2 linked regions of the Homo sapiens genome follow. The protein of the gene in region 2 purifies or fractionates together with the protein of the main gene of each other region. This does not show direct contact. Each region holds a gene or a part of one and is shown on either strand. Other genes may lie near its edges. The genes, in order: EIF2D and DNAJC18.

Evidence for each region.
Region 1: the proteins of DNAJC18 (region 2) and EIF2D purify together in Homo sapiens (affinity purification with mass spectrometry; one large-scale study listed by BioGRID and IntAct). This does not show direct contact.

Annotation. Positions count from the first base shown.
Region 1 is NC_000001.11:206,598,477-206,602,496, forward strand, and holds part of EIF2D (eukaryotic translation initiation factor 2D), read right to left. Parts: intron 3,978-4,020; coding exon 3,860-3,977; intron 1,833-3,859; coding exon 1,787-1,832; intron 1,361-1,786; coding exon 1,257-1,360; intron 1,137-1,256; coding exon 987-1,136; intron 617-986; coding exon 527-616; intron 1-526. UniProt on the Homo sapiens protein: Translation initiation factor that is able to deliver tRNA to the P-site of the eukaryotic ribosome in a GTP-independent manner.
Region 2 is NC_000005.10:139,422,507-139,426,025, forward strand, and holds part of DNAJC18 (dnaJ homolog subfamily C member 18), read right to left. Parts: intron 2,609-3,519; coding exon 2,499-2,608; intron 312-2,498; coding exon 202-311; intron 1-201.

The sequences.
Region 1 (4,020 bases), on a different chromosome or scaffold from region 2:
AAGGTGACTGTAGTTAACAACAATGTATTGTGTATGTCAAAATAGCTAGAAAAGAGGACTTACAGTGTTCCCGACACATAGAAATGGTAAATACTCAAGGTGATGATACCCCAAATACCCTGCCTTGATCGTTATACACTCTGTGCATGTAACAAAATACCATGCACCCCATAAATATGTACAAATATCTATCAATAAAAATAAATACCTAAAGCTATGATGACTTCAGTAAATTCTTTGTAAGCTTGCATTTTATTCCTCACAATAGCCAATTAAAGATGATTCATGGGTATTTGTGAGAGAATATTTACTTAGTCGGTAGTCAATGTTGATCGTATACATGGATCTGAACACCCCAGACAATAACTGAGTGTCCACAGCCCATGGTTTGGAAACCACTGATCTTAATTACCTCTAAGATGCTATGGTTTTCTATTCTCCCTCCCAGACATCCTCCCCAAATGTGTCTATGTCTGATAAAGACAAAGACCCAATAAGACAGATCTGGTGCTTCTCATGCACTCACTTTTTGTTGTCTGCATCAACCAGGTCATTTTTCTTGGCGTAGTTAATGACGATCGTTCGGACCTCACTGCCCTCCAGAAAGCTCCCCTTCCTAGGTGAGGAGAAGTGACCCAGGGGTTAGTTCATGCTGTGCCATGAGACAAAAATGCAGATGCCCAGACTCACTCCCTGCTGAGCAGGGAACTTTCCTTAGCTTTCGGCCTCTAGTTTCTTCCCTTTTCCTGACTGAAGTGAGCATGACCATGTGAAGAATAATTACACGCAGAAAAGGGTGAGACCTACTCGTTCATTTAGTCCAGAGGAACTTGCCCAGGGAAGAAGGCTGGAAGCTGGATTTTGGAGAAGGGGAGAACAGGGGCAGAGCAGGTTTTGCCAGTCGCAAAAGAGCACTACTCAGGTTGAGAGGAACTGTAGGCCAGAACACCAAGCAGGCAGAGAAGGGCTGCTCTCCAAAAACTCACTTGTGGCCAGACTCCTGGAAGAGCAGGGTCATGCTGGCTGGGACACAGTAGAGGGGTTTTATATCTGGAGGGTGATAGGGCTGTTCCCTGCTACCCTCCTGGATAGTCTGGGAGGTCGGGGAGGGCTCGGGTATGACGAAAGATGTAATCCTAAAACCCAGCAGAAGGAAAGAAAAAACACATTTTATACTAGCATCTCAGCAATCCCCAGTCCGTGGCCCAGGTGCCCTGGGGCCAGCTGGGCTACAGTGACAGGCCCCCTGCACTCACCTCGGGTGTTTCCAGTCCACAGCCACAATGCTCTCCACCCCTTTGCTCAGCTCCTTCACCTGTATAATCTGCTCCTGCTGCATTTGCTGCAGGAACTTAGAGAGCTAAGGGAGAGAGGGCCAGTGGTAGGGGACTTCATTGATTCCACACACATACTGAGCACCCAGGATGTGCCAGAGTGAGCTAGGCAGGGACTGTGCAGGGATATGAGACAGCCCCTGCCTTCATCAACCAGGAACTGGGAGGCCCCCAACCTGAGGGCCAGGGAGCAAGAAGCTGCTAGAGACTAACCAGTGAGGCCGTTCAGAACTCTAATCAGATATAAAGGGGTCAAAGGAGAAAGGAAAGTGGGTGCCACCAACTGCTTCAGCCCAGGGAGAGTTTCTTTCTTCCCCCTTATACTTGGAGTCAAAAAGCTTAATTCTAGACTGAGCCTGGTAGACAAGGCTTCCCCAGCATCCATCTGGCTTATGTCATATGTGCCCCTACACAACTCTCTGCATGGGTCTGCAAAGAAGATCCTTGCTTACCTTTTTGTAGCTTGACTTCTTTATGTCCAGTTGTCGTCCTTCGGGGCTGATGGCAGATGGAAAAGGCAAATTAAACTAATGAGCAGTCATACTGGGACCTGCCTGACACTGAGAGGAGGGCCTTTTTCCTCAGCCTTCCTCCCCCACCTTCAGAGAGAGGCCACTGTGCCAGAACTCTCTGCCCAGGGATGACAGCAGAGAGGGATGCAGACTATGGGACATTCTAAATCAGTGCTGTTCAAGAGAACTTTCCATAGACGTGGAATGTTCTCTGTGTTGTCTAACAGGGCAGCCATTAGCCACATGTGGGTAGTAAGTACTTGAAGTGTGACTAATGTGACCAAGGGAACTGAATTTTAAATTTTATTTACTTTAAATTAATTTAAACTGAAAATAGCGACATGTGGCCAGTGGCTACCACATTGGATACAGCCTTAGATTCCTCCCAGACCAGACAACCTTCTGTGGCCTCCAAAGTTGCAACAGCAAACTCACACTGTGGGCAGCCAGGCCTGGAGTGGGGCCCAGCAAGCCGCATCCTGGGGTCAGGTCTGGCCAACTAATTATCTACTGTCTATGGTCACATTAGTGCTACAATGGCAGCATCGAGCAGTTGCAACAGAGATGGTGTGGCCTGCAAAACTGAAAATATTCATATTTACTATCTGGCCCTTTACAGAAAAACATGCTGACCCCTGCACTACAGCAATTAGTTTTGGAGAGAACATTCCTGATAAAAGCTTACATCTTCTCTCAAAACATGACACGCAATAGCAGTGGATTCTCGAGGAGTCCTTCTAGAATCCACCCCAGAATCCTATCCTACAGAATATTCTGGGGCCCCTTTACCATATATTTGCAACCCAAGAAAGTCAGAACAGATTACCAAGTATCCCTCCACACACTCCAGACACCACATTTGTACAGGATAGCTTAAAGACACCCAAGTATAAATGGGAAGACATTACATTAAGAATCACTTTTTTAAAAAACCACAGCCAGATTCTCAAAAAGAAATAAATTCAGGCCGGACACAGTGGCTCACGCCTGTAATCCCAGCACTACGGGAGGCCGAGGCAGGCGGATCACTTGAGGTTAGGAGTTCAAAACCAGCCTGGGCAACATGGTGATACCCCATCTTTACTAAAAATACAAAAATTAGCTGCACATGGTGGCATGTGCCTGTAATCCCAGCTACTCGGGAAGGCTGAGGCAGGAGAATCTCTTGAACCTGGGAGGCAGGGGTTGCAGTGAGCCGAGATCACGCCACTGTACTCCAGCCTGGGTGACAGAGTGAAACTGTGTCTCAAAACAAAAAATAAATAAATAAATAAATTCAATCTCAGGGTAAAAATCAATAAGCAAACCTCCTGACATGATAGTATTTACTGAATGCTTATTATGGTTCAGGCTATGTAATCTTTACAGCAATCCCATGATTATTAGAAATTAGGACTCAGAGAAGCCCAGTAACAAGCTAAAATGCACATTGCTTGAACACCCTGGAGACCTAGCAGTTGAGTACAGACAGCTCTGTCTTCAAAATCCAGGTTCTATCCACACGCAATAATACCACTCCTGATGGCTTGTGTTTTGGATGGGGTGGGCCGGGACGGGGGGTGTTCACACCAATTCTTCCTCCTAATAAAACCTAATGTGGCCCCCCACATACTTTTCAGAAGTGTGAGGAGGTTGAATGTTCCAGAAGAAGATTCCTGACAAAGAGGCTGCCCTGGGACACTTCCTGCAGAGGACACGCTGCCCGATTTGTGAGGTTGCCCAGAACCCCCACGGCAGAGGCAGTGTTCACAGAATCTCAGGAATTTTAACTTTCCGGTCCTCAATATCCTTTCATTGGCTAAAATTTAAGATTTTGTTTTAACAGCCCAGCAAGCTAAGAATTAACTTTTTAGAACCCAGGAACTAATGTATTTGTCAGATAAGCCTTCCCTCCACTCTTTCCACAGCATGTCCCTCAACCAGTCCCTGCATTGGCCCCATCCTGTCCTACTACCAAGGAGCACACGTGAGACCCCGGCCCCGGCCTCCAGCCCACATCAGTGCTTTCCATACCAGCAGGAGAACATGTGGCTGCCAAGGAAAGTGCTGGTGAGTAAAGGGAGGTCAGCCTTTTTGACTCGGCACTTCAAGGCATGTAAGAAGCATTGCTGTAACAGCTCATCCATTTGTTCTGCAGGGAAAAGACAAGAGCCACATCCTTCCTGAGGGATACA
Region 2 (3,519 bases):
ATCTATTTCCCGAGGCACACAGGAGACTGCCTCAGTATTTTTGAGTCTCAGCACCATGACTACCCAGCTGTTCCTTTAAACATCAAATCGGTGTTTTCTACAGCAAAAGGTGAAATGAAATGTTAGTAATGTATCAGCAAAACCTTCAAGTCTTTCACCCCCAGACTGTTACTGAGAAAGATTTAGAAATACCAGACTTACGATTTATAGAACAGACTATATGGGGGATTAGTAGCCAGCAGCTGAGTAATGACAGATATAATCACAATCACAAGAACTGGAAGTAGCTGAATAAATGCAGAATATGTAGTCTGAAAAAGAAAAAAAAATAAAAACTTGCTGTAAGTGTTCTTTTTTTTTTTTCTGTCGCCCAGGCTGGAGTGCAGTGGTGCGATCTCGGCTCACTGCAAGCTCCGCCTCTCGGGTTCACGCCATTCTCCTGCCTCAGCCTCCCGAGTAGCTGGGACTACAGGCACCCGCCACCACGCCCGGCTTAGTTTTTGTATTTTTAGTAGAGACAGGGTTTCACCGCAGCCAGGATGGTCTCGATCTCCTGACCTCGTGATCTGCCCACCTCGGCCTCCCAGAGTGCTGGGATTACAGGTGTGAGCCACTGCGCCTGGCCTGTAAGTGTTCTTTATCAATATAAAGCTTATTGAAAATAAGATAGTTGCTCCAAAGAAAATAACAAATTATCAATGCACTGCATAGGAGGATCCACAAAGCCCCAGGCTTTTCTGGGAAGGCTGTACTTTCAGCTGAGAAGTACAGGTTGGGCAGTCCTAATCAGAAAATTCAAAATCACAAATGCTCCAAAATCTAGAACTTTTTGAGTACCAGGATGACACTTAAAGGAAATGCTCATTGGAGCATTTTGGATTTCCTTTTTTTTTTTTTTTCTGAGACATGGTCTTGCTCTGTCACCCAGGCTAGAGTACAGTGACACAAACATGGCTCACTGCAGCCTTGACCTCCTGGGTTCTGATGATTCTCTCGCCTCAGCCTCCTGAGAAGCTGGGACCACAGGTGCACACCACCGTGTCCAGCTAATTTTTAAATTTTTGTAGAGACAAGGTCTTGCCATGTTGCCCAGGCTAATCTCAAACTCCTAGGCTCAAGCAATTCTCCTGCCTCAGTTCCCCCAAAGTGTTAGGATTACAGGTGTGAGCCATAGCACCCAGCCTCAGATTTTCAGATTAGGAATTGTCAAATATATAATGGTATAATGCAAATTTCCAAAATCCAAAAAAAAAAAAAAATCTGAAATCTGAAATACTACTGGTCCAATTTACTTCAGATAAGGGATACTCAATCTATACCAAATAACCTTTACTCTCTCTGCTGAGCAGGCTGAAGGAGGTCCAACAACAACCTGGATTGACACCCAGTAATCCCCCTGCAGCCCCATTAATAAGACCAATGAAGCAAACATCTCTAGGTAAACCTGCCCAGACTGTGCCTCTTACAGTAGTGGGGCTCTAGGAGCCAGGTTAGCATCATGCTTGGCCACAGCTGATTGGACTCAGGGGACATCCAACTCTGGCAGAGGTAATCACGTTTTCTCTCCTAGGAATTTGGGGTTGAAACTCATCACCCTTCACTTCTGGGTCATCACTTTAAGGAAGAACACACACTCTCAGGCACTGTAGACTGGCTATTTGCAAGGGGAAGTAGAACAAGCAAAGCTGCTTGGTGAAAACAAAACAGAGGCAAAGAGTGGCAGGAAAACTGGAGACAATCTGGGCCCAAAGAGTCCTGCAGAGCACAGCTGCTTGGGAGCCTGACAGTATCCCAGTTCCTTGTTCCTGTCTGTCATGAGGCCCAGCTGTGCTTCTTGTCCTTGAGCTTCATGAGACTCTTTTGATCCCTTACCTTAAACCCCCTTTAGTTCTAAATATTTTGAAGAGGATTCCTATTTTCTGCAGCCAAGAAAATTATGAAGCCGGAGCGGTGGCTCATGCCTGTAATCCTAGCACTTTGGGAAGCCAAGGCAGGAGGATCACTTGAGCCCAGGAGTTTGTGACCAGCCTGGGAAACATGGTGAGAAATAATCTCTACAAAAAATGAGCTGGGCATGGTGGCACGCACCTATAGTCCCAGCTACATGAGAGGCTGAGGTGGGAGGATTGGTTGAGCCCTGGAGTTTGAGGCTGTAGTGAGCTGTGTTTCTACTATTGTACTCCGGCCTGAGTGACAGTGAGACCCTCTCTCAAAAAAAAAAAAAAAAAAAAAAAAAAAAAAAAAGCCTTGATGAAGTCAGCCCCACAGATTGCTGAGATTCTGGGAGAGCCACCCAAGAATGGGCAGAGGGAGGGGATACCATTCTGCCTATTTAGGCCAATTTTCCAGCTCTTCTAACCATTGCTTTTGCTTTCCTAAAGCACATCTTTCCTAAAGCAACATATCTCAGGTTCAACTTCTAAAACTTGACCATGTACCATCAAGGTTGGCCAAGTACAACTGTTTATGGGCAGCAGTGCTCCTCCCTCCCTAGGTACCTGAGGTTTCTCTTCTTCCTCCTCCTTCTGAGTCTGTGTCCTCTCATGTCGGTGCCGTCGACGGTAATAGTAAGTGTCATCTGTCACATTTGAAAACATATGAATATTTCCTGGAAAAGAAATACATGGTATGGGATATGGCAAACACTCCTTCCCTGCCTTTTTCTTTTTTTTTTGGAGATGGAGTTTTGCTCTGTTACCCAGACTGGAGTGCAATGGGGTGATCTCGGCTCACTGCAACCTCTGCTTCCTGGGTTCAAGCGATTCTCCTGCCTCAGCATCCTCAGTAGCTGGGATTACAGGCACCCGCCACCATGCCTGGCTAACTTTTGTATTTTTAGTAGAGATGGGGTTTCACCATGTTGGCCAGGCTGGTCTCGAACTCTTGAACTCAAGTGATCCACCTACCTTGGCCTCCCAAAGTGTTGGGATTACAGGCGTAAGCTACCGCGCCTGACCCTTCCTTGCCTTTTTCAAGGTCCTTGTTCCCAGCTAGGTTTGTTAAGGATAGAGTATTGGCCTATTTTACCCAGTAGAAAAATAAGACAATAGGCAAGCCAAGTGAACCAGCTGGAGCTAAAGCGTGCTGAGCTCTCCTGACTTCATTTAAATAGTCCTTTGCAACTAGTGAGAGAGAACCCCGAAAGGCTAGAAGAGAGAGAGCATTAGGGCCGTGAATCCTATCTGGCATGTTCACGTCTGCTTCCGTGCCCAATACCATATTGTGTCACTGGTATCTTTTAATAGCAACTCATAAAATTCAATTTACTTCCTGGGCATTGAATTATACCAACTTCCAACTTGCTGGGGGGTACTTTCCTATCTTCTATCTTTGTAAGTGCTATTTTACACAACAATAATAGGCATTTTGTTACTTATTTATAAGGCACTTAAAAATATCTAATCCTCACAGTGACCCTGTGAAGTAGGTATTATTAACAGCCCCATTTTTCAGGAGAGGAAACAGGGTCAGAGAGACTAAATGATTTGGTCAAAATTATGCACAGCTGGGGGCTGGAGA